7 linked regions of the Homo sapiens genome follow. The protein of the gene in region 1 interacts with the protein of each later gene in a pairwise test. Each region holds a gene or a part of one and is shown in the gene's direction. Other genes may lie near its edges.

Region 1 (3,500 bases):
GTTGGAGTGCTGCTCTCACACAGGAGCACGGCCTGTTCTGGGGGTCGGAGGGCTGGAGCACCACCATGAAGGGCCTGCAGGTGGGTGGAGGCAGAGGGCTTCTGGGAGTGTGACCGGCCTGGGCCAGACAGATGCCTGGTGCTTCTGCCCCCACCCCTGGGCTCTGGTGTGCCTCCTGCCATCGGCACCACTGTCTTCCTTGTCCTTCCCTGGGTCCTGGGCCGAAGCACAGTTGACAGGACCTGACCAGGGGCAGGACCCTGTCCTCACCTCGCCACCTTTTTGCAGTCCGCCAGTTCCTTGGGAGTGGGGTCAGCCCTGACTTGGCCAACGAGGACGGCCTGACGGCCCTGCACCAGGTCAGCCTGCACTGGGTGTGGGCAGGGTGGGGGCTGGCCCCCGTGCTCTGGTCGCTCACGTGGCACGGTTTGCAGTGCTGCATTGATGATTTCCGAGAGATGGTGCAGCAGCTCCTGGAGGCTGGGGCCAACATCAATGCCTGTGACAGTGAGTGCTGGACGCCTCTGCATGCTGCGGCCACCTGCGGCCACCTGCACCTGGTGGAGCTGCTCATCGCCAGGTAGGGCCTGTTGGGCGTCCTTGGCAGGGAGAGGCTTCCTCTCAGATGGCCGCTCAGGAGGCTCCTCTTGGGCAGTATCTGTGGCTCTCGGCCTCCTGTGTTCCCGCCTTCACCTTTGCTGACCCTGCCTGTGTCCTGGCATGGAGAGCAGGGCCTGGGGCTCCAGGGGAATGGGCATGTGCCCAGGGCAGCGCGGTCCCTGCCTCCCCAGCATTCGTCCTCCTGCCGAGAGGGCAGGCCTCGGGCCCCCCCCCAGAGTGTGCACAGAGAAATGTCTTGGTCAGTGAGGAGGGCAGAACTGCTAAGGAGGGAAGCAGAGTGAGGAGGCCAGGTGGCTTGGGAGGAGAGGGTACCTGAGCACAGGTAGGGCCTTTACCTTTAACACAGAGGGACGTAGAGCGGGGGGAACTCTGAGCAGGGAGGGTCCATGAGCCTCCTCCCTTCCCCTTTGCTCCAGGCATCTGTAGTGGGAGAGAGGTCAGGGCTGCGGTCATTCTCGAGTGCCCCTGTGAGGCCGGGTGGGGTGTGCATGGCGGTCGCGTCACACACAGGCGCTGCGGGGCAGGCGGGGATGTGGGGTGTCCACAGGTAGGCCTGCTCCTCCACTGCACACAGACACCCCCTTCTGTGTTCTGGGCTCCCCTTCACCGCCCTTCTTCCCTGGGGCCATGCTCCCCACAGCTCAGCAGCCCCTCAGCGTGGCTGCCTGGTCCTGCACCCCCGCCACCCTGTGCTCCCTGCTCCCCAGCAGGCAGGCCCATCCAATGCATGTTTATGGGGGCACCGCTGCCCCTGGAGGTGCCAGGAACCTGGATCCCTGGATGGATAGAGACTGCAGGAGGCCTGTCTGGCTTAATGACAGGATCTAGGACAGCCGATGGGCCCCAAGGCTGCCTCTCCCAGCAGCAGGTGGACAGGGTGCCTCCTGAGGGGCAGCCCTGGGCTGAGGGGCCCTGGCGGGGACTTCTCCAAGTGAGGAGCCTGGCAAGCGGGGAAGGGCCTTGTGCCCAGCACCCCGTCCGTCTTCCCTGCAGTGGCGCCAATCTCCTGGCGGTCAACACCGACGGGAACATGCCCTATGACCTGTGTGATGATGAGCAGACGCTGGACTGCCTGGAGACTGCCATGGCCGACCGTGGTAGGTGCGGCGGTGCGGCTGTGGGAGGGCTGCCGGTCGCGCTCCCTCTGAGCCTGCCGCCTCGCAGGCATCACCCAGGACAGCATCGAGGCCGCCCGGGCCGTGCCAGAACTGCGCATGCTGGACGACATCCGGAGCCGGCTGCAGGCCGGGGCAGACCTCCATGCCCCCCTGGACCACGGGGCCACGCTGGTGAGGGCTGGGGGGTGAGGGGCACACGGGGCTGGGGGCCTCGCTACTTGGAGGTGGGGGATGGGGCCGAATTCAGGCCGGGCGCTTGCCTGCAGCTGCACGTCGCAGCCGCCAACGGGTTCAGCGAGGCGGCTGCCCTGCTGCTGGAACACCGAGCCAGCCTGAGCGCTAAGGACCAAGACGGCTGGGAGCCGCTGCACGCCGCGGCCTACTGGGGCCAGGTGAGTGCGGGCGGGAGCAGGTGGGAGGGGGCTTCCAGCGCAGCAGTCTGCAGCTCCGGCCTGCCGTCCACAGGTGCCCCTGGTGGAGCTGCTCGTGGCGCACGGGGCCGACCTGAACGCAAAGTCCCTGATGGACGAGACGCCCCTTGGTGAGCTTGCGGGGCCCACCTCCACCTGGGGGAGAGGACAGGCGGGGAGGGCGCCCCTGACGCCTGCGCCCACTTCTCAGATGTGTGCGGGGACGAGGAGGTGCGGGCCAAGCTGCTGGAGCTGAAGCACAAGCACGACGCCCTCCTGCGCGCCCAGAGCCGCCAGCGCTCCTTGCTGCGCCGCCGCACCTCCAGCGCCGGCAGCCGCGGGTGAGCGCCGCCCCCAGCAGGCCCCGCCCCGGGCTTGGCCCCGCGGACGTCAGCCCCGGGCGGAGTGCCAGCCGAACTGGGGGCAGAGTCCGAGGGGGTGGGCGGGGTCCTCCGGGCACTCCCCTTCCCCTCACTCCCTCTCCTCTCTCCTCCCCAGGAAGGTGGTGAGGCGGGTGAGCCTAACCCAGCGCACCGACCTGTACCGCAAGCAGCACGCCCAGGAGGCCATCGTGTGGCAACAGCCGCCGCCCACCAGCCCGGAGCCGCCCGAGGACAACGATGACCGCCAGACAGGCGCAGAGCTCAGGCCGCCGCCCCCGGAGGTGAGCGCCCCGTCCCTGCTCCGCCCAGCGCAGGGGTGGGCCTGGCTCTGCCCTGGTTCTCTCTCCGCTTGGACCCCCTCCTGCCTGTGTCAGGAATGGTGCCCTGCAGGGGCCAGCTTTTGCCCCATCTCTCCTGTCTGTCCCTTCATGACCATACAGCCTGAACCCAAGGCCAGGGAGGGGGGAGGAGCCTCCTGATGGCTCTGGGACCTTCACTGCCCGCAGGAGGACAACCCCGAAGTGGTCAGGCCGCACAATGGCCGAGTAGGGGGCTCCCCAGTGCGGCATCTATACTCCAAGCGACTAGACCGGAGTGTCTCCTACCAGCTGAGCCCCCTGGACAGCACCACCCCCCACACCCTGGTCCACGACAAGGCCCACCACACCCTGGCTGACCTGAAGCGCCAGCGAGCTGCTGCCAAGCTGCAGCGACCCCCACCTGAGGGGCCCGAGAGCCCTGAGACAGCTGAGCCTGGCCTGCCTGGTGACACGGTGACCCCCCAGCCTGACTGTGGCTTCAGGGCAGGCGGGGACCCACCCCTGCTCAAGCTCACAGCCCCGGCGGTGGAGGCTCCCGTGGAGAGGAGGCCGTGCTGCCTGCTCATGTGAGGCTGTTGCTCAGCATGCAGGGGCCCTGTCGCGGGCACAGCCCAAGGCTGCCTCCCCACGGTGCGTGCCCTGGTGCTG
Region 2 (4,012 bases), on another chromosome or scaffold:
CCTGGAGCTGGGAAACAAAGCCCTCTCAAATCTGAATATGTGTTTCACGAGGAGAGAGAGAGCAGCAGAGGGGACCACGAGGAAGGCAGAGATTCCCTGACCACCTCATGCCTTTGTACACCACTCGCCTTTACTCTCTGGATTAAACAGCATTAGGGAGACAAGAGAGGAAACACATGTGGTGTCTGGAGACCTGTGCCTGCCTGTTCCAGTCCCACACCCAGTCATCTCACCACACCCTTCACCTCACTTTACCTTCTCCTCCAGCACAGGAACTAGGAACTACGGAGAGAGAAGCCAAGGGAGAGGAGGAGGAGGAAACTAACGATTCCCTGCCCACCCCCACACCCAGCACCACCAACAGGTGGGCAAGCTTGCCGAGAAAACGCAGAGGGCATCCTGTGAGCAGCAAACACATCTGAGCCTGGAAAAGACGCAGAGAAGTAAAAGATCAAAGGTGAGGTAGGGGACGTGGAGGAAAGTGGGAGAGACAAAAGGAAAACAAAAAGTGGGGGATCATGAGAAGCAGAGGCAGGAAATAACAGGGCTTCAGACTTGGGTGCAGAATGGAGGTGGAGGACACAGCACAGATGGCATAAGAATTAATATTTCCTTGGTTCCTCCCAGGGAGTCCTTTCTCAACTTTGTAAGGCGTGCACAGAGGTGGCAAGGAAGCACCTTGCTCCTCTTCCTGGTTCTAAGGAAAAGGTGACCTTGAGCCAGTGGGTGTCTTTCCCAGTGCCTGCCTCTAACCCTGTGCTTTCTCCATATCCTCCTCTGGTATCTGTGTTTATTCCGCGGTTTCCCCGCGGCTGCCCCCGGGAGACCGAAGAGGTGGCTGGGGCAGGCCGAAAGCAGAGGAAAGGTTGGGCAGTGTCACCCTTGCACACCCACAGGGTAGACGGATCGAGTTTCAGCTTAAACCGAGGGGTGTGGGGGAAGGGTGTTGGGTTCAGCTAGTCCACGTGGGTGCTGTCCTCCACTTGGTGCTGAAATCTGGGCGGCCACATCCCCGGGGCGGGAGGGGGCTACATCCCCGGCTTTAGACGCGCGAGTCTCAGGTCCCGCTAATTACCTGGCGGGTGCTGCCCACCCCTGCCCTCGCGCACCTAGCGCGGTGGCAGGCGGGAAGGCGGGGCCTGGGGGAGCCCCACCCCTGGAGACTGCGGCTGGGGCCTCCCTCTCCTCCGCCCGCCCGCCTGCCACTAGCTCATTGCGCCTCTCCTGCAGTCTGATTGGCACCGGCTCCCATTCCGGCTCCAGCCTCCAATCCGACCCCCATTTCGGCTGCAGCCTCGGACCTAGCTCCGGCCCTCGGTCTATCCGGTTGCATCCTCCCTCCCTGTTCCGGATCTTATCTTGCGCCAGCGCCTACTCCAGGATCCCGTAGCCAGACCTCAAGCCATGGCTGGTCCCTTCTCCCGTCTGCTGTCCGCCCGCCCGGGACTCAGGCTCCTGGCTTTGGCCGGAGCGGGGTCTCTAGCCGCTGGGTTTCTGCTCCGACCGGAACCTGTACGAGCTGCCAGTGAACGACGGAGGCTGTATCCCCCGAGGTAACAGTGCCTGAGGCGCGGGAGGAGGCGGGGGCAGGAGGTGATGGGAACGAAGGTGCGGGTAGAAGTGAGAATCCGGGCAACAGAGAAGGGCTATAATCACGAAGGCCCTGGAGCTGGAGGGCTGTGCAGTCTGCAGACCTCAGTGGGGTGGGGGTGGGGGCCAAAACCATAAAGCAAGAACATTCCTGGGGACCTGCCAAGACCAGCTCTGGCCCTACGAGTTCTAGCTGCACTGGCTGCCCAAATCCCTAATTGTAAAGCCAGGAACTATCCTTTTCGCTCCCCTCCATCTCCTTCCCTCATTTCCTCAATTCCTCTCCTTAGGCTTTTCCCCTCCTCCATCCGTAGTGTTGTGTCATGGGAGGAAAGAACTGAGCAGATCTGAAGAAACTGAGCTGGCCAGCCAGAGGCAACTAGAACTATTAGGAAAGCATAGACTCTGAAAGTCCCTAAAGAGATTACCAAGGTTTACCCTCTTTCTAATTCCCCCTCCTCCCGCGGAGCAAAGCCAGACATGGCCAACTGGACAGCTCCCAGGTAACTGCACTAGGTCTAGGCGTCTGTGCCCTCCCTCCATGGTTACTGGGTACCCCCTCCCCAGCGCTGAGTACCCAGACCTCCGAAAGCACAACAACTGCATGGCCAGTCACCTGACCCCAGCAGTCTATGCACGGCTCTGCGACAAGACCACACCCACTGGTTGGACGCTAGATCAGTGTATCCAGACTGGCGTGGACAACCCTGGCCACCCCTTCATCAAGACTGTGGGCATGGTGGCTGGAGATGAGGAGACCTATGAGGTAGGGGGTCCCCAGAGTCTCCCTGATGATCCAATTCATCTTCCCAGTAATCCCAGCTCCTTTCCCCTAAAGACCTCTCACTTTCCCCCAAGACTCTGAGCCCCCCATACTTAAGTTTTCTGAACCAGTGAAATCAATGCACAATTGAAGTCTGGGGAGGGATTCCCTCTCCTTAACCATCTCTCCCTCTTAACTCCCCTTAGGTATTTGCTGACCTGTTTGACCCTGTGATCCAAGAGCGACACAATGGATATGACCCCCGGACAATGAAGCACACCACGGATCTAGATGCCAGTAAAGTGAGTTCAAATATCCCACTTCTGATTTGCATTGCCTGTGTACAACACTCTGTATCTCCAACCCCTTCACCTTATTTCCTGACTCATGGTCATTATACAGCTGAGCTTTTAATCTTAATGTAAGGAAAGAATCATATCTTAAGGGGCAGCATATATGGAGATGGAAGGATAGATAAGAATGACCATGACCCAAGGTGGGTGGTTTGGGGAAAGGTCTGCAATGCCCCCTTCAATTCCAGTGCTTTCCCAAAGGGCCTCTTCTTCCAATGCATGCAGGAAGAATGCACAAAGAGTCCTCTAATGCCTAAGGAAGGTCTCTCCTTTCCCAGGGGCCCTCAGTTCCCACCGTGTTTCTGTGACTTACATTCATTTCCCTTATCTCCCAGATCCGTTCTGGCTACTTTGATGAGAGGTATGTATTGTCCTCTAGAGTCAGAACTGGCCGAAGCATCCGAGGACTCAGTCTGCCTCCAGCTTGCACTCGAGCAGAGCGACGAGAGGTGGAACGTGTTGTGGTGGATGCACTGAGTGGCCTGAAGGGTGACCTGGCTGGACGTTACTATAGGCTCAGTGAGATGACAGAGGCTGAACAGCAGCAGCTTATTGATGTGAGGGCCTTAAGAGGGTGCTGGTTGGTGGGAGCAGATGGGGAAGGCTGGGCCAGATGAGACATGGGCTCTGAAAGGCCCAGGGGCCACCATGAAGATTCTTAACCCAAGTCCCGTTACTCTTCCCAGGACCACTTTCTGTTTGATAAGCCTGTGTCCCCGTTGCTGACTGCAGCAGGAATGGCTCGAGACTGGCCAGATGCTCGTGGAATTTGGTATGAAGCTGCTCATTACCTCTTTTGTCTTCATGCCCTCATAAATGCTTTTTTTCCCTCTATCTCTCCCAATTCTTGCCTTGCCTCTTGATCACTGTCCCTCTCCGGCCCTCAGGCACAACAATGAGAAGAGCTTCCTGATCTGGGTGAATGAGGAGGATCATACACGGGTGATCTCCATGGAGAAGGGTGGTAACATGAAGAGAGTGTTTGAAAGATTCTGCCGAGGCCTCAAAGAGGTTAGAGAAGATTGTGTAGGGGAGCTAGGTGGGAGGACATAAGGAAAACCAAAGAGTAGCATAAATAGATTATGTAATTTATCAACCAACCCAAGACATGTCTGATGGTAAAAAGGACTACCTAGGACTCACTCTAGGACTAAAGGTATAAACCAGCTGGGACCATACTGGGAAAACCAGGACATGTGGTCACACTAAGATTAGGAAAAGAGTGTCAGGAACCTTAGAAAGTGAAGAAGGCAGGTAATGCAAAGAAGGAATAACTGAGATGGCACGTCAGTGCCTGGGATGTGTG
Region 3 (3,500 bases), on another chromosome or scaffold:
ACGGAAATTTTTCTCTTCTTAAAAAGTTTTTATATTTTTTGTTAATGTCTGGAAAACAGTATATCTCTAAACATATTCCCCTTTCTAATGCATGAGCCGTCATTCTACATGTGGGGCATATTATTGGACTGACAGAAATAAATAAACCATGGGTGAAGATGAGAAGCAGCTGTAGTTTGGTGGGAAAAACACTGCACTTGGCATCTCAAGACCTGGGTTTGAGCCTCTGCACGGCTGCTTGTATTTATGGTCCTTAGACAAGACTTAGAAATGAGTCTGTCTCGTTTGTGAAATGGAAATGGCTGTGCCCGTGGCATAGTTAAGATGACGACGCTGGTTACATGGGGGAGTTTTTTCTAGTAGGTGCCCATCAGGCCTCAAGTATAACTGAAAATGAACTTAAAACCCACCTAGAAGTCAAGGTTATCCGTGAGTCCTTGCAGAACTCTGCAGAGCTCTCCCAAGATCCTGTACATACAAAGGCTGTAGCTGAATCTGGCACATAGTAGGCACTATTGTAGTCCAAACAATAGTTCCTGTCCATGATATAAAATGAATATTGGCAACTACTTATCAAGACTTACTCTATGCCAGGCATCTGTTCTAAGTGGTTATGATTGTATTGACTCATTTAATCCTCACAACAATCTTTTGATAGATCTGCAAATATATCCCTATCTTACGGATGAAATAACTGAGCTCTAGAGAGTCTGTGTTCGGACTGCATGTTCTTAGCCCAGCATGCTATATTGCCTCTGTAATATAAAAGTGAAGAAATTCCCTTAGCCTTGACAAATTTAAGAAAGAAAAACAATGGTGGAAGTGAATGTCACATAAGGTGACACATTTGTTCTTCTTTCTGGATTGGCACTTTTCCCCACCTCCCATCAGCTGGGGATTGTCTCTATTTCAGCTTTGCTTAGCCATTCTAAACAGTTTTGAATTTGATGAACAACTTGGTTATCTGTTCTTATTGCTAAATGTCTATGGTATTTGTGCTTGGCACTAAATTATTCATTAATCCAAATACTCCAGCCTTCTGTTGGTTGAGAGAGAGACAGACTCACTGTCGGTTCAGACAGTTGCCATTTGGTGGATAAATGGTTCCAAGACAGTTCTTCTCCCAAGAACTTACCGGAATGGGGAGACATAAGCGCTGTGTGGTCTGTTCTCTTTTACGGGAACCTGGTGTGTCTTGTGTATGCATACCCAAAAGCTGCTTTCAAACTTCAGGCGGTTGCTGAATGTTTCTAAGGTATGGTTTCAGGTATACTATAGTATTGTTGGGCATTATTACTGAATTTCATGGTGACATCAAAACATAAGAAATGTCACTCTTCAAATGACATTTCCTACGTGCTTGGCCACATTTTAACTTGGGGACTGCAGAAGTGTTACAGATGAGGCCTCAGAATGGCTCCCCACAATCAGGTGTGGGCAAGGCTGGTTAGTTACAGAGCCAGTATCTATTCACCGGATCCCTGGAAACAGGACTCTGGAGGTTGGAGATCTCCTGGGGCAGCCAGGCTGTGATTCTGCAGATTGAGAAGCTGAGGGGCTGAAGATAGGACAGGGCGTGGTGCCACACAGCTGGAGTTAGGACCACCCCAAATCCCAGGTCTCTGTCTTTCCCCATATTCAGTGGCAGTGTCTTGAAGCTTTCCATCTCAACACTGACAATTAAGCAATTCATAAATACTATTGCTTTTGTACTGGGTTTTGCAGGCAGAAGAATTTGCAAACTTGGAGACCAGATAGTAGGTGTGATAGGAAGTCTCAGACAAGAGTTTTAAGAAGAAAGCGGTGGTCGGGGGGAGACTTTCATTAAGAAAGTGTAGTTATACCCCAGTTTATAGTCCCAGTAAAAAGAAATGGGAGAAGTAGGGAGAAAAGAAACACGGCTGCTCCAAGAGGTTACTGAGAATATGGGAAGTCGAGAAGGACAGGTGTGAAAGAAGGAAAGAGGGTCATACATCCAAATACCACGGAAGGGTGGCCATGGAAACTGCTGGCCAACCAGCAGGAAGGCCCCAGCCCAGCCCAGCCTGAACTGAGCCTGGGGCAGCAGAGGTCAAAGGGAGCACAGAGGGAGTCGTTGCTTCTGTTCAGAGCAAGAGGATGGAGTAGGGTTAGTAGAGGCAGAGAGAAAACGAAAAGCCCCGTGCCTGGGGAGCAGCTGTGATCTCATCAGAGGTGGCCTGGCAGCTGGGAGTCACCCAGAGCTGCCCAAACCTCACTCTGTCACCAAGCCTGCTGGGTGACCTCAAGCAGGTTACTTACCTTCTGCAGTGTAAGTTTGGGTGAATGTGCCAAAAACCCCATCTCCACAAAAAATACCAAAGAATGACCCAGGCGTGGTGGCGTGTGCACCTGTGGTCCCAGCTACTCGGGAGGCTGAGGAGGAAGGATCGCTTGAACCCAGGAGGTTGAGGCAGCAGTGAGCCATGATTGTGCCATGCTACTCCAGCCTGGGCGACAGAGCAAGACTTTGTCTCAAAAAAATAAAATTAAAAACCCATTAAAATTTTGGAATAAAATCCAATACTTGGCAATATTTGGTAATTTTTTAATTAAAAATTTTAGTTTAATTTTTAAATGAAAACTTTTAATTTTGGTAAAATTTTTAAATTTTTGGTAGTTTTTTCTTCTTGGTAATTATGTCTTAATTACCAAGAATAAGAGTCTCTGGTGGTGAGGGAAGGAGCATCAAAGCTCAGGTGATATTCTTTACACAGAGAGAAAGGAAGCCTCAGATAATGAAGATGGCAGCAACATCCTCGTAGCCAAAATGTACAACTGTCCTTTCATGTGGCACCTGTGTCCACAGGCATGCACCCTGTACCTCCCGCCCACAAGGGGAGTCCACCCTACCTGAGAAGCGTCCTTTTTTTTTTGAGACAGAGTCTCTCCGTTGCCCATGCTGGAGTGCAGTGGCAGGACCTCTGCTCACTGCAACCTCCGCCTACTGGGTTCAAGTGATTCTCTTGCCTCAGCCTCCGAAGTAGCTGGGGTTACAGGTGCCCACTGCCATGCCTGGCTAATTATTGTATTTTTAGTAAAAATGGGGTTTCACCACATTGGCCAGGCTGGTCTCAAACTCCTGACCTCAGGTAATCGGCCCGCCTCGGCCTCCCAAAGTGCCGGGATTACAGGTGTGAGCCACTGCACCTGGTCAGAAGGGTCATTTTAAATAGCCACTTTTGCAGAATATATACTAAAAAAGTATTATTATGAAGCACACTTTATAAAGTCTTAACTAGCTGAACGAAGCACAATGTGTTCTCTAAAAAGAACATGAAACCCAACCAATCTATTAGCATTCTTTAAGGAGTCAGAAACAGGCCTGGAGACGAGGGAGAAACCCAGGATGAATTCTGTTTAGACTTTCAAAATTCCTTCTGACAAAGTTCCATCCCAAAGGTCATTTACAATAGTAAGTCTCTCCAGCATGTGCGGGGAAATTGCCGTGGATCAGAATTATCCTTAGAGACAAGAAATAA
Region 4 (3,500 bases), on another chromosome or scaffold:
CTGGCTCTTTTCATTCTAGGGCCACTGCCAGCCCATCCAATGCCCTTATCATAATAGAAAAAGCTGCCCCTTCCTCAGGTAGATACCGCCCATGTTGGAGAGGACCATAGGCTGGATTTCAGCCCTCCCCATGCTCCTGCCAGGCACCCTTGTGTGTGGCACCACCTGCCCAGCCAAACATGGCAGTCTCATGCTGTTCTCACCATTTGGTTGCAAACCTCTCACTGTGGGTTCTAGCAGGTGTTGGCCAACAAGGGCCGGGCCCAGGGACAGTCCCGGAGCCAAGAATGGGGCTGTGCTCAGGCCATCCCAGGTGTTCCCACAGCACATGGCCATGGGCACTGTGGAACATGATATTTGAGGGATGAAATGCCTTTTAAGGTAAAATGTAAGTGAAGGTCACTCTGCCACAGGTTAAGCTACTCCGTGAGGGTTTGTCTTCTAGTTGTGCCACTCTTTTGCTCAAGAATCTTCTGTGACTTCCTCAGCCTGGCCACTCACTGGCCCTCAACAGGCCATGTGTTCCTCCTGTGCTCCCAGTGGCCCATACCCTCTTCTCATCCCACCTAAGTCCTCTTTACTCTTCACTCCTCTCTCTTAAGCTTTTCCTAGCAGAGGTTGATACTATCTCAGTTTCCTAGAAACCCGTGCCATTTAACTTCCTTCACATCTCCCCGTTTCCGCAGTCAGGCTGTAGGCGGCATCCAAAGCTTTATCTGGGAAAGGGAGTCTCCCCGGGTCTTCTCCCCATCACTGGCTCCTCTAAGTCTGACAGTGATATTTTCCCACAGAAATATCACCAAACCCAGCACTCTCAGCAGTCCAAGTCCTTGCTCTCAGAACTTGGGAGATGTGATGGGCTTTACCCTCAGGCAAGTCTAGATTTAAATTCTAGTCCCTCATGTACCTCAGTGGGGCCTCACTGCTGAGTTACACAATCACTCTGCCTCTACAGAGATTCCTCTTTCACCTGAGAAATTTATTTCTGCCTCATCAGCACCTGTAATGTGGTTCCCCTACCCCGGCCCTATCCCCTAACTTGTATTATTGCCAACAAAAGGATTAAACGCCCTCCTTGTCCTTCTGTTTGTGGAGCACTTTTGGGACCCCTTTGGGGCTGTGTCATGAGGAAGCTCCCATGGTCCCTGCTGTATTTGCCAGTTAAATTCAGCATCCATGCTCTGCAGCTGATGTCGTGCCTTCATGTGGAAGATCGTGGAAGAATTTCTGGAGAAAGTATGGAGGATTGACATACTTTAACAGGGTTTCCCCCTGCATATTTTGGTGTCTGAAGAAGCTAATATCAGGAAATACTATGTCCTGACCAATTCATAATTTTTATTCCATGTTAGTATAAATAAATTGGATAAACCAAACAAAATGTCATGTCATGTTGGAATGTTTACTTTCAGTTTCCTAAACGATTTCCTATGAGAATAGCCAAGCCTGGAGTGTGTTCAGGATGTTCTATACATAGATAATTTGCCCAGGAATGCTATATTTTCACTTCTGTAAGAATAGCATTGTGGACAGAGGGAGAAAAGCATGGGACTAAAATGTATGAAAATTAGACTGGGCATTGTGGCTCGCGCCTGTAATCCCAGCACTTTGGGATGCCAAGGTGGGTGGATCACTTGAGGTCAGGAGTTCAAGACCAGTCTGGCCAACATGGTGAAACCCTGTCTCTACTAAAAATACAAAAATTAGCTGGGTATGGTGGTGGGCGCCTGCAATCCCAGCTACTTGGGAGGATGAGGCAGGAGAATCGCTTGAACCTGGGAGGCAGAGGTTGCAGAGAGCTGAGATCATGCCACTGCACTCCAGGCTGGTAGACAAAGAGAGACTCTGTCTAAAAAAAAAAAAAAAAAAACCTCCAGATTTCCACCTGCTGTTGTAAAATGGAAGATCTGCTGAGACGGTGAGACGGATTTAAAAAAAAAAAAAAAAAAAGGTATGAAGATCACTGGCTGGATTCAGATCCTAGCACCACCACAGCTGAGCCCTCTGACTCTGAGCAAGTTTCTTAACTGCCGTGCCTGTTTCCTCCTCTGCCTAATGAGGATTAAAATTTTACCCATCTAAAGAAGACAGCAAAAATTAAATGAGACCCACACAATTGTGTGTGTTCAGCACAATTAGTGACATGTGAGGACTGATCCATGTCAGCTTTTGTTCTTACTACTCAACTGAAATGGATTCCTGTAATGGCTGAGTGGGTTTATTTTGCCAGGTGTCCTCTCTCTTCATAGTTTACACCTTTCCTCACATTCGTGTTGTTTCCTGACTCTTGTTCAACCAGAGGTGATATGATTTGGCTGTGTCCCCACCCAAATCTCGTCTTGAATTATAGTTCCTATAATACCCATGTGTCATGGTAGGGACCCTGTGGGAGGTGATTGAACCATGGGTGCGGTTACCCCCATGCCGTTCTTGCGATAGTGACTGAATTCTCACAAGATCTGATGGTTTTATAAGGGGCTTTGCCCCCTTTGCTCAGCACTTATCTCTCCTGCTGCCCTATGAAAGAGGTGCCCTCTGCCATGATTGTAAGTTTTCTGAGGCCTCCCCACCCATGTGGAACTGTGAGTCAATTAAACTTCTTGGCTTTATAAATTACCCAGTCTCAGGTATCTCTTCATAGCAGCATGAGAATGGACTAATACAAGAGGAGAACAGGCTCAGCTCGTGAGACTACCACACCCATGTGAAAATGTTACAAGTTGCGTAATGATCCTAATCAGCCTTTGAGCTTGTTAACCAGATAGCTTTTTGTTCCTTTCACAGAGAGCAACCTCGATCCTGAGAGAGTCCCTGGAAGCCAAAGTGGAAGCATTTGGCGATTTCAGTCCCGAGGTGGCAGAGACATACCGGCTCCTGGGAGGAGCAGACCTGGCGCAGGGGAACCACAGTGGGGCCCGCAAGAAACTGAAGAAGGTAAAGCTGGAACCAGTACTAACACGAGACTAGGCTCTCCCTCCCCTCTCCAAGGTCAATTTCTCTCCCTTGTGGTGGTTCTTTTAAATGAAACTTTAGAAGTGGCTTGTTTAGATAGGATGACATCACTTTTGTGGTAGATCTAACCTGATACTTTTTGGGTAAAAGACATAGTAAGCCTCTTAGACATACATATTTTTTAAATGAATTATCAGTTTTTACTATGCAAATATTTTTAATTTTTTACGTAGTACAATTGATCAGTCCTTTATGTTTGCGGTGCTCTCTCTATACTGAGTTTATAGAGGAATTCTCTTACACTTTCTTCAATTGTCATTCTTCTTTAAATTTGGAGTTTATTTGTGTGGATGGCATGAGGAATGGATCTAATCTTACCTTTTTTCCAAATGGCCACCCAGTTGTCCAGCACCATTTAATTAGAGAGCCCATCTATGCTCCAGTGACTTCAGATAACACCTTCATCATATACTGATTTTCCTTATGGACTTAAGTCTATTTCTAGATTTCTCTTCTCTTCCACTAGTCTTTCTGTTTATTCATGTGTC
Region 5 (3,500 bases), on another chromosome or scaffold:
CTTAGAAATTCAACTTTAGGATTAGAATTCTGCTAAGAGGTACCATGTGACAAAAAAGGTAGTGTAAAAATCACAAAGACCAGGACAGGCTCATGCCTATAATCCCAGCACTTTGAGAGGCCGAGGCGGGCAGATCACTTGAGGTCAGGAGTTTGAGACCAGCCCAGCCAACATGGCAAAACCCCATCGCTACTAAAAATACGAAAAATTAGCTGGGCGTGGTGGTGGACACCTTTAATCCCAGCTACTCGGGAGCCTGAGGAGCCTGAGGCGTGAGAATCACTTGAACCTGGGAGACAGAGGCTGCAGTGAGCTGAGATTGTGCCACTGCACTCCAGCCTAGGCAACAGAGCGAGACTCTGTATCAAAAAAAAAAAAAAAAAAAAAAAAAGAGTTCTGCAAAGAATGGCACCTGGCATCAGAGCTTTCCCTGAAAGGCCACTAAGGATGAGGAACGTGAGCTCCGGGGAGGCGAAGGGGGCAAAGCCACCTGCCTGTTGCCTGTTTTACATAAGGAGGTTTTGCATAGGAGTCATTTTAAGATACATGAAGTAGCCAGAATAGATAAATCCACATAGACCTAAAGCAGATTGGTGGTTTCCAGGGCCTTTGGGGAGGGGAGACTGGGGAGCGACTGATTAAGGGACATGGGTTTTTATTGGGGTGACGCAGACGTTTTGGAACCGGATGAAGGTGGTGGTTGCACAACATTGTGATTGTAATACATCCCATCCAGCGGTTTGCTTTAAAGTGGTTAAATATATCTGAGAAAAATGTTAAACATAAAAGTTTTGGCCAGGCACGGTGGCTCACGCCTGTAATCCCAGCACTTTGGGAGGCCGAGGCAGGCGGATCACGAGCTCAGGAGTTTGAGACCAGCCTGACCAATATGGTGAAACCCCATCTCTACTAAAAATACAAAAATTAGCTGGGCGTGGTGGCGTGTGCCTGTAATCCCAGCTACTCAGGAGGCTGAGGCAGGAGAATCACTTGAACCCAGGAGGCGGAGGTTGCAGTGAGCCGAGATGGCGCCACTGCACTCCAGCTTGGGCAATAGAGTGAGACTCCGTCTCAAAAAAAAAAAGACAAGTTTGTCTTGCTTTAAAAAAAAAAATACCTCTCCTTTTACAGATGGCGACACTGAGGCCCAGAGAGACATCATGACCAGCCTCAGGTCCCACATGCAGCCTGCTGCTCTGTAGCCTAAATCAGATCACTGTCCCAGCTTTCAGGTCAAGGCTCTGGTTGTGACACCTGGGCCTGGACTGCGGGTGAAAAGTTTTGATGCAAAAACACAGACCGTCCATTGTCCTATGGGCTAAGTGGACTCCCTTCTGCTAACCAGAGATGCTTGTGCTGGCTGGTGTGTGGCACGTTATCTCATTCTTTCATGACGTATGTCCGGATGGAAGTCCTGGGTCAGGCATTGTGCTGGGAGCCCACACGAAGACCCTCTAATGGCCCCACCCATTGGCCTCTCACCACCTGGTGGGGACAGAGGCTGTCACAACCCCTTCTTAGGTGCTCTTGATCAATTTGCAGGTGGCATTTTTTGGGATGTAGTCTCTGGGGAAGTAGGAGAGCTTCCGGCAGTGAGGGGTGTTTGAACCCACCTGGAGGGAGACGTGGGGTTTGCCAGAGGGCTGAGAGGGCTGGGGTGAAGGGCAGGTAGACCCCAAGGTGGAGAGGCAGGTGGGGCCGGTGGGTGAGAGGTGGGGCTGTGGAACTTCCTCCTGCTTCTTTGGCCTTTGCTCCTGTCGGTAGATGGCCTTACCAGGCACTTACTGTGGGCCATGTTCTAATCTAACCCTTAACCTGAGGGAACTCACTTCATCCTCCCAGTGATGCCGTGATGTGGGTATCGTTCTGCCCATTTTATAGATGAGGAAACAGAGACCCAGAGAGTCCAGGATCTGTGGTGCTTGACGAGCATCAGCCTGAGTGCTGTGAGGACACCCACAGCATGGGGGTCTGAGCTGAAAATTGGAGGACAGAGGCTGCCCTCCGGAAGTGACCAGGATGTGCCCTCAGGAAGTGACCAGCTGCCCAGCTCAGGACCTGTGTGAGGGCCCCCAGGCAGCTGGAAGGAACAGTGTGCACCCAGGTACCATGCCAGGGCCCCTGAGCATCCGTCTTGTCATCGCATAGTTGTAACCTGCCTCACAGACTGAACATGCACTCTAGAAGGGGATGGGACTTGGTCTGTGGACCACAACAGTGTTCTCCATGGCCAGCATTGTGCCTGACACATAGGAGGAGCTCAATTAATATTTGTTGAGTGAATGGGAAGTTTTAAGTAGGCACGCGGCCGGATCCTTGGAGAATGTTTATATGGAGTGAACGAATCTGTTAGCAAACGTTCCTCACTCCCCTCAGTGGGCTGTGCAGGGCTGTATTGAGCTGAGCTGGCCCTTCCCTGGGAGAAGAGGTTTCTTAGAGAAATGCTCATCCTCGAATTATTCCAATGAGGAGGAACCTAAGCCCAGAAGGGCTCTACCTCCCAGAGTTACAGGCTCTCCTTCCTATGCCCCTTCCCTGCCGAGGCAGCTCCCACATGTCTGCATAGGAGGGCTTTGGGTTGGAATGGGTCAGTGCTGTGTCTTAAAGCTGCATTTTCTACCAAGCACACACTTTGTTTAGAGGGCATATCTTTTGGGGTTGCTTTGAGGAAAGGCTAACCAAGCCACCTCTGAGCACAGACATGACTTTTTGGCAAATGAGCAGGACCCCAGATTACACCCCATCTTAGAAAGTAGGAAACCCAGCATTGAAAGAGGAAAGATTCTGCAGCTGATGTGGCCTTGGCGGGCCACCAGCGTGGGTGCCCAGATGGCAGGATCACTGGGCACCACATGGCACACAGAAGAGAGCAAAGGAGAGGGAGTCCGCCCCTGGGCTTGGCAGGTCCGGTCGAGTCCGCCTGGATTCAGTTACAACAGGACCTCGAGTGGGCACGGCGTGCCGGACTGAGTCAGTGTGTGTACATTTCCTTTGTTCGTCTCCTCCGGGAATGTAGTGGCCTTTTGTGTGTGTTTTAAATGCCAGCCTCCTTACCTAACCCAAGAGGAAATGAGGACTGGGTTTTTGTCTGTGCAGACGCTGGGACAAGTGTGGGAGCCGCCTGCTCTTGGAGCCAGCCTAGTGGTGACAGCGTGGCATTTGGAAAACATTCTGTGGTTTTCTCCAAGGGGTGATGGGCACACCAGGTGCTGGGCCGCCCCTGAGCTGGCCACTGGGACCCTGAAATGAGGAAGCCCTGTGACCAGGTTTCATGATGCCATTCAGCAAGGGACGGCTGAGCACCACATGCCTTCTTGGCCCCTGGGGAAACACACAGGAATCAGATGAGGTCCCTGCCCCGTCTTCCTGGGGAAACATGCAGAGAAAATACTTGTACTCTGAGCTAACACCTTTCACTCGCACAGACCTTTATGGTGTTCTGTGTCTTCAGACATTGATCACCTGTAGGTGAGACACATCATGGCCCCACTTTCCAAACT
Region 6 (3,500 bases), on another chromosome or scaffold:
TGCTGCTGAGGTCTCTGTGCGGTGTTGGCCGGCAGTCCCTGTGCGGTGTGTTCCATGCTGCTGAGGTCTCTGTGCGGTGTTGGCCGGCAGTCCCTGTGTGGTGTGTTCCATGCTGCTGAGGTCTCTGTGCGGTGTAGGCCGGCAGTCCCTGTGTGGTGTGCTCCACGCTGCTGAGGTCTCTGCGGTGTTGGCCGGCAGTCCCTGTGTGGTGTGCCCCACGCTGCTGAGGTCTCTGTGCGGTGTTGGCCGGCAGTCCCTGTGTGGTGTGCCCCACGCTGCTGAGGTCTCTGTGCGGTGTTGGCCGGCAGTCCCTGTGTGGTGTGCTCCACGCTGCTGAGGTCTCTGTGCAGTGTAGGCCGGCAGTCCCTGTGCGGTGTGCCCCACGCTGCTGAGGTCTCTGTGCGGTGTTGGCCACAACACTGGGCTGGGCTGGGGAGGCGGCGCCGGCCCACAGGGTGTATCCCAGAGCTCCTGCAGCCGCTGCGGTCCTCTGGTCTGCCCCAGGTGGCACGTGGGCTCTCAGATCCCAGATCCTCTGGTCACCCCTCACCCCCAACCCAACTTCTGTGCAGTGGCTGCGGGAGTTTGAGACACGCTGTGGCTTCAGGGGCTGGTGGCCTGAGCTCAGCCTCCTCATGATGGCTTCCTAATTCTAGGAAGGGGCAGTGGGGTCCCTGCTTGCCATTCGGGGTTGGGGGTGGGGACTTGGGAGGGAAGGGCCCGTGCAGGAGGGCAGCCCCACGGCCTGCAGGGATGTGTGGGGACAGCCTTGGAAGGCAGGGCTGGCTGGGTGAGGCCACTCTGAGGCGGGTCCTTCCCACTCAGTCTTGAGCCTTGGGAATTGAGGTCTTGGTGCTTGGCATGAAATTGCACGTGAACACCTGCTCCTTGAAATCACCCTCACAGAAAGTTTTTTTTTTGTTTTTGTTTTTGTTTTTTTTGAGATGGAATCTTGCTCTGTCGTCCAGGCTGGAGGGCAGTGGCACGATCTCGGCTCACTGCAAGCTCCGCCTCTGGGGTTCACACCATTCTTCCGCCTCAGCCTCCCGAGTAGCTGGGACTACAGGCACCCGCCACCACGCCTGGCTAATTTTTTGTATTTTTTTTTTTTTGGTTGAGACGGGGTTTCACCGTGTTAGCCAGGATGGTCTCGATCTCCTGACCTTGTGATCTGCCCACCTCGGCCTCCCAAAGTGCTGGGATTACAGGTGTGAGCCACCGCACCCGGCCCTGGAAAGTTTTTTAAACAGTCGAATGTGCACACGTGGACAGATGCTAACACACACTTAGGTATTTAAACTCTGAGGGGCAGCAGCAGCGTGTCAGAGGCGAGGACCCAGCTGCTGGTCTGTGGTGCGGGGCGTCCCACCTGAGCACGCTCGTTTTGCCGGAGGAACAGCCAAGCCTCACACTGCCTGTGGGGGGCTGCGAGGACGGGCTGGGGGTGTCCTTCCCTGGCTGCCCCAGCAACTCCCACGCCTTCTGCCCTTGGTCTCACTCTAAGCCCAGGTGGGACGGTCGTCCTCCTCAGCTAGGCTTCCTGAGCTCTGCAGCGCTGGGTGGGCTGTGGATGATGGGGGGCTCTGTTGACAGGTTCTGCGTTAGACCTGCATCTTAGCAATGTGAATATTGCATCCCTAGAGAAGGACCTGGAAGAGCAAGACGGCCACGACCTGGGAGCAGCAGGTGAGGGTGGGGAGGACCTGGGGCCCTGCTCCTCCAGCCGCTGAACAGCCAAGTGCTGTGGCCGGAGGATCGCTTGAGCCCGGGGAGGTCAAGGCTGCAGTGAGCTGAGGTTGCACCACTGCACTCCTGCCTGGACCACAGGGCAAGACCCGGTGTCTGGTTTTCGGAGCGGGAGGATCCCCTTCTGGCGGTACCTCCTCCTCCTCTCCCTGACTGCCTCTCCCTTTCCCTCCCCTGCACATGGACTCCTCAGCATCTCTCCTGCCTCGGGCCTGCCCACTTCTTCAGTTGACCTTTGTCCCAGCAAAGTGGCCGCGCAGAGACAGGCGGGGCCTTTCCTGAAAGTCTTGATGGTCCCCGAAGGATAAATGTATTCACATTGTAGACAAAAGATTGACATCCATACAAATGTATCTTTTTTTTTTTTTTTTTTTTTGAGACAGAGCCTCGCTCTGTCGCCCAGGCTGGAGTGCAGTGGCGCGATCTCCGCTCACTGCAAGCTCCACCTCCCGGGTTCACGCCATTCTCCTGCCTCAGCCTCCGGAGTAGCTGGGACTACAGGTGCCCGCCACCACGCCCAGCTAATTTTTTGTATTTTTAATAGAGACGGGGTTTCACCATGTTAGCCAGGATGGTCTCCATCTCCTGACCCCGTGATCTGCCCGCCTTGGCCTCCCAAAGTGCTGGGATTACAGGCGTGAGCCAGTGCGCCCGGCCCCATACAAATGTATCTTAACATCGTATACAACATCTTTTCATTCAGCCTAAAAGTGTATCTTTTCTTTCTTTTAAAAGAAAGTAAACCATTTCAGGGGGCCTGGACAAGTGCTGGGAGGACCGTGCCAATGGCTTAGTTGGCCGGCAGGGCCTGGTGGGTGTCCGGCCTCTTTGGGGGGGGCCCATGTTAAACCCCCGTCTCCCCACCTCTGGTTGGAATCCCTTTGAGCCCATGGCTTGCCCAGCTGTGTTGGACATGGCCACCGGGGGCGCTGTGGCTCCAAACACATAGATGGTGGTGGCTGGCCTGGCCCCTATATTCCCACCCCCCATATCCCCACCACCACCACCTGCAGGGTCCGTCTTCCACGGCTGCCGCCCATGGCAGATGTTTGGGCAGAGGCCTGGCGGTACTCCCTTCGCTGACTGGTCCGCCCCCGCCAGGTCCCAGGTCGCTGGCCGGCTCTGCACCTGTCGCCATCCCCGGCTCCCTGCCCAGAGCACCATCGCTACACTCGCCATCCTCTGCGTCCACCTCGCCGCTCGGTTCGCTGTCCCAGCCCCTCCCAGGGCCGGTGGGCTCCTCAGCCATGACGCCTCCCCAGCAGCCGCCACCCCTGCGTTCAGAGCCGGGCACACTGGGCTCTGCAGCCTCATCCTACAGCCCCCTAGGTGAGTGCCGGCTCCCTCCATGCTGGCGTTGCCGTGAAGCCTCCGTGGGGCTCCCTCCCAGATGCCGTCCTGACTGAGGGGCCTCACACGGAACCTTGTGCCCTATCTGTGGTGGCAAACCACATGACCTGCTGCTCACAGGTTCCCCCACGCCGCAGACCGAGTCTCGCTCTGTCGCCCAGGTTGGACTGCAATGGTACGATCTCGGCTCGCCGCAACCTCCGCCTCCCAGGTTCAAGCAATTCTCCTGCCTCAGCCACCCAAGTAGCTGGGACTACAGGCGGGCGCCACCACGCCCAGCTAGTTTTTGTATTTTTAGTAGAGATGGCGTTTCATCACGCTGGCCGGGCCGGTCTCAAACTCCTGACCTCGTGATCTGCCTGCCTTGGCTTCCCAAAGTGTGGGATGACAGTGAGCCACCGTGC
Region 7 (3,500 bases), on another chromosome or scaffold:
GTTATCTGGACTTAATCGAGGAGCATGCTGAATACTTATCATTTTCATACAGTTGTAAAGTTGGGAATTTGCAAGACAGGCAATTGTAAGTCAGCGACCCATCTGTATTGTGTATTTTTTCATTCATCGAGGATATTTTCCTTTATGTCTTTAGGCATGATTATAGCTGTCCTGAAGTTTGTGTCTGGTAATCTTAGTTGATTTTTTTCTTGAAAATGTGTTTTCCTTTTTTGTTTGTTTCCCATATGTTGAACAATTTTGGATTGTATGCTGAATTTTGTGAATGATACGTTGTAGAGGCTCTAGATCCTGTTTTATTCCTCCAAATAGTGTGTTTTGTTGTTGCTATCCATATCCCTTGTGGGCAGCAGATCAAATATTGGTTCCGTTCTTTTAGCTAGGCTCCTTGGAGTCTGCAGCATGTACATGCATGGTTCAGGGTTCAGCCAGAGATTTCCGTAGAATTTATATACAGAATGTATAGGGCTCCCTCCCCCTTTCTGGCTCTTCCTTTTCTAGGATTTCCCACTTTACCATGTCTGTTGTTCCAAACTCTCACTGAGGCCTGCCTTCAGGCTAAAAGATGTGAAGAAAAAACAAAAACCTCATTGGTTTTTTATGAATGTAGACTCCCCTTCTGTGTCTGCCTGTTTGGTTGTTCCCCAGTGCCTTCAGAAAGCTTTTGTTTTTATAAAATATTTTGTCCAGAGTTTATAGTTATTATTCAGTGGTTTGCCCTGACAGTGTCTACTTAGCCATACTAGAAGTATGCCATCTTGTGTGGTGGTACTTTTCCTTCCAAATTTTAAGTTTTGTACAATGAAATGTTTTCCCCATTCCATTAGAGATTCTTAAACTTGATTTTGTAATGTCCCAGTGTATCTCCATTGTGACTCAAAGGACTCTAAAGAAGTTAATGTAGGAAAAACACCCCAAAACATTTAGTTTTTTATTCCTGCTGTAACAAATTTCCACAAAACTTTGTGGCATAAAACATTATATTTTTAACCTTACAGTTCTGTAGGTTAAAAGTGACACAGGTCTCAGTGGGCTAAAATTAAAGTGTAGCCCGAGCTTCATTCCTTTTTGGAGGCTCTAGAGGTGAATGTCTTTTCTTGGCTTTTCCAGCTTCTAGAGGCTGCTCTTGGCCCCTTCTTTCATCTCCAAAGCCAGCAAAGGCAAGTCTAGTTCTTATATCACATCACTTCGACCCTCCTGGCATTCATCACATATCCTTCCTTGCCTCTTGGTAAGAACCCTGTGATTGATGACATTGGGCCCACCTAGATAATCCAGGATAATCTCCCTATTTTAAGGTCGGCTGATTAGCAGCCTTAATTCTCTTTTGTTGTGTAAACTAATACTCACAGGTTTCCAGGATTAGGATGTGGTTATCTTTGAGAGACCATTATTCTGCCTGCCATAGCCATAAATTAGCAGTTTAAGGAGAGAGAGAATGAACAAACTTTAGTTTATGCAGTGAGGTTCAGTAGGCCACTATTGCAAACTGCAGACTCGGATCTTTTTATTAGAGACTTGAACTCAGTTTCCATTTCAAAGTAATAAAAAGTTGACTTTCCTTTCTCTTTGGGCACTGTTTAGTACCTTAGTGCTCAGAACATTGAGTAATAAATTACAGGTCTGTTGCCCATGCTGTATAACCTATTGAGTGACAGTCAGTCTGATTTTCCAATGAGGAACCTTGTCACTAGTTTTTGAATCAGTTCAGGAAGCATGTTATAAATCAGTTGTAGGAAATGTCTTTCATTACAAAACATCAAAGACAGTTTACACACATTTTGGTTAGGGGGAAGGTGGCTTTATCTGTCGGATATTTTGCTAGGTGTTACCCCATTTTATGTGTGAGATATATGAAGATTGCTGGACAAATAAATGCCCAAGATCACACAGTAGTAAGGGCTGGGTTTATTCGCAAGTCCTGTTTTGTTTTGTTTTTAATCTACCTTTCTGAAGTTGCTCAAACAATTGAAGTTGCTAAGGGAAATCACTATGTATGGTGAAGATTTAAATTTAATAGGCACTCTAATAATAAAAGGTGTACCAGTGTAAGCAGACTAGGGAAATGATTTCACTTTGCTTAGGGAAAAGAGATGGAGGTTTAGGGGCTTTAAAGGGGTAGGAGATGGAGGTTTAGGGGCTTTAAAGGGGTAAGAGGAGGAGGTTAACCTTGGTCATGATGGATGAGTGGAAGGTGTAAGTTGAGATAATGCTGTAGGTATAGCTAGCTACATATACAAAGACACTGAAGTGCATGAGGTGAGACTGAACCCCGGGTCCACTGGATGGGCATTTCATTTCTATAAATTATTCTTGTCCTTAGAACAATTGGTTGTTGCTTATATCCATGTGGGATTTTAGATATCTAAAGAATGTTTTCTTTAATATATGGTCAAGATGGCTGGAATCATTAATGCTGTTATCTTAATCTGTAATGCACAGTGCCTGTAATACCTGGGCTCTTCATGCAGCTTTTCTATAATATAAAATTTAGCCAAATTACATTTGTTAATTCTCTCATAGTATGGTAAAAATTACTTACATTTTAACCTGAATTAACATTTTTAGGTAAATTACTGATGGAACTTTATTTGGAGGATGTTTGTAAAAGTCCTCCTATTTCTATCTGAAAATACAGCAAAACTTAAATTTTAGTGGTTAAGGCATGTACTGAAGTCAGGAAAATCTGTATGTGGCATTTCATTTATTTAGCTGTGTGAGCTAGGGAAAGTTTTTCCCCCTTCTTTGAGCCTTAATTTTCTCACCTGTAAAACAAGATAATAATACCTACTTGGTAGGCTTGCTGAGAGGAATAAATGGATTATAGTGTAGATTTGTAGTTTATAGCATGAGATCTGACATAGAGTAAGCATTTGTATTTATGATTATCCTTGAAATAGATTTCACAATTATTAACCCAGCATCAACTTTGTTAAAATAAAATGCACTGAAAAACTTTTGTTTTTCATGGAATTTTTTTTTTTTTTTTTTTGAGACAGAGTCTTACTCTGTTGCCCAGGCTGGAGTTCAGTGGCGTGATTTTGGCTCACTGCAACCTCTGCCTCCCGGGTTCAAGCGATTCTCCTGCCTCAGCCTCCCAAGTAGCTGGGATTAAAGGTGCGTGCCACCACACCCGGCTAATTTTTGTACTTTTAGTAGAGATGGGGTTTCACCATGTTGGCTAGGCTGGTCTCAAACTCCTGACCTCCAGTGATCCACCTGCCTCGGCTCTCAAAGTGCTGGGATTACAGGCATGAGCCACTGCACCCAGCCTCAAGGATTTTTTTTAAATGTAAAATTACCTAGTCTGAATGAATGTATTGCAGACCCTGACTTTTTTAGGAGGTTTCAGTTTTCTTGCTTGAGCTGGCAATAGGGGAGGCTGTAGGTAACAAGTCAGCAGATGTTGTGAACAGTGAGAGGAAGGCACGGAGGGACCTCAGACCACTTTGGATTCACTAGAGATGTTTCATGTGTGCACT

Evidence for each region.
Region 2: the proteins of PPP1R16A (region 1) and CKMT1A interact in binary tests that used the Homo sapiens proteins (3 or more experiments, as listed by UniProt).
Region 3: the proteins of PPP1R16A (region 1) and RGMA interact in a two-hybrid assay, tested with the Homo sapiens proteins (one large-scale study listed by BioGRID and IntAct).
Region 4: the proteins of PPP1R16A (region 1) and TTC23 interact in binary tests that used the Homo sapiens proteins (3 or more experiments, as listed by UniProt).
Region 5: the proteins of PPP1R16A (region 1) and NEK6 interact in binary tests that used the Homo sapiens proteins (3 or more experiments, as listed by UniProt).
Region 6: the proteins of PPP1R16A (region 1) and UNKL interact in binary tests that used the Homo sapiens proteins (3 or more experiments, as listed by UniProt).
Region 7: the proteins of PPP1R16A (region 1) and NDUFV2 interact in binary tests that used the Homo sapiens proteins (3 or more experiments, as listed by UniProt).

The regions. Positions count from the first base shown.
Region 1 is NC_000008.11:144,498,482-144,501,981, forward strand, and holds part of PPP1R16A (protein phosphatase 1 regulatory subunit 16A), read left to right. Parts: exon of another isoform or gene 1-288; coding exon 289-359; exon of another isoform or gene 360-434; coding exon 435-580; exon of another isoform or gene 581-1,041; intron 1,042-1,614; coding exon 1,615-1,718; intron 1,719-1,785; coding exon 1,786-1,910; intron 1,911-2,005; coding exon 2,006-2,131; intron 2,132-2,204; coding exon 2,205-2,280; intron 2,281-2,360; coding exon 2,361-2,490; intron 2,491-2,647; coding exon 2,648-2,813; intron 2,814-3,038; coding exon 3,039-3,422; 3' UTR 3,423-3,500. UniProt on the Homo sapiens protein: Inhibits protein phosphatase 1 activity toward phosphorylase, myosin light chain and myosin substrates.
Region 2 is NC_000015.10:43,692,647-43,696,658, forward strand, and holds the start of CKMT1A (creatine kinase U-type, mitochondrial isoform 1 precursor), read left to right. Parts: upstream 1-1,212; 5' UTR 1,213-1,404; coding exon 1,405-1,553; intron 1,554-1,880; exon of another isoform or gene 1,881-2,064; coding exon of another isoform or gene 2,065-2,157; coding exon 2,158-2,356; intron 2,357-2,559; coding exon 2,560-2,655; intron 2,656-3,041; coding exon 3,042-3,263; exon of another isoform or gene 3,264-3,264; intron 3,265-3,392; coding exon 3,393-3,478; exon of another isoform or gene 3,479-3,482; intron 3,483-3,593; coding exon 3,594-3,717; intron 3,718-4,012. UniProt on the Homo sapiens protein: Reversibly catalyzes the transfer of phosphate between ATP and various phosphogens (e.g. creatine phosphate).
Region 3 is NC_000015.10:93,079,212-93,082,711, reverse strand, and holds part of RGMA (repulsive guidance molecule A isoform 3 precursor), read left to right. Parts: intron 1-3,500.
Region 4 is NC_000015.10:99,155,582-99,159,081, reverse strand, and holds part of TTC23 (tetratricopeptide repeat protein 23), read left to right. Parts: intron 1-2,784; coding exon 2,785-2,934; intron 2,935-3,500. UniProt on the Homo sapiens protein: Participates positively in the ciliary Hedgehog (Hh) signaling.
Region 5 is NC_000009.12:124,264,449-124,267,948, forward strand, and holds part of NEK6 (serine/threonine-protein kinase Nek6), read left to right. Parts: intron 1-3,500. UniProt on the Homo sapiens protein: Protein kinase which plays an important role in mitotic cell cycle progression. Required for chromosome segregation at metaphase-anaphase transition, robust mitotic spindle formation and cytokinesis.
Region 6 is NC_000016.10:1,369,705-1,373,204, reverse strand, and holds part of UNKL (putative E3 ubiquitin-protein ligase UNKL), read left to right. Parts: intron 1-1,593; coding exon 1,594-1,686; intron 1,687-2,847; coding exon 2,848-3,075; exon of another isoform or gene 3,076-3,198; coding exon of another isoform or gene 3,199-3,271; intron 3,272-3,500. UniProt on the Homo sapiens protein: May participate in a protein complex showing an E3 ligase activity regulated by RAC1. Ubiquitination is directed towards itself and possibly other substrates, such as SMARCD2/BAF60b. Intrinsic E3 ligase activity has not been proven.
Region 7 is NC_000018.10:9,105,699-9,109,198, forward strand, and holds part of NDUFV2 (NADH dehydrogenase [ubiquinone] flavoprotein 2, mitochondrial precursor), read left to right. Parts: intron 1-3,500.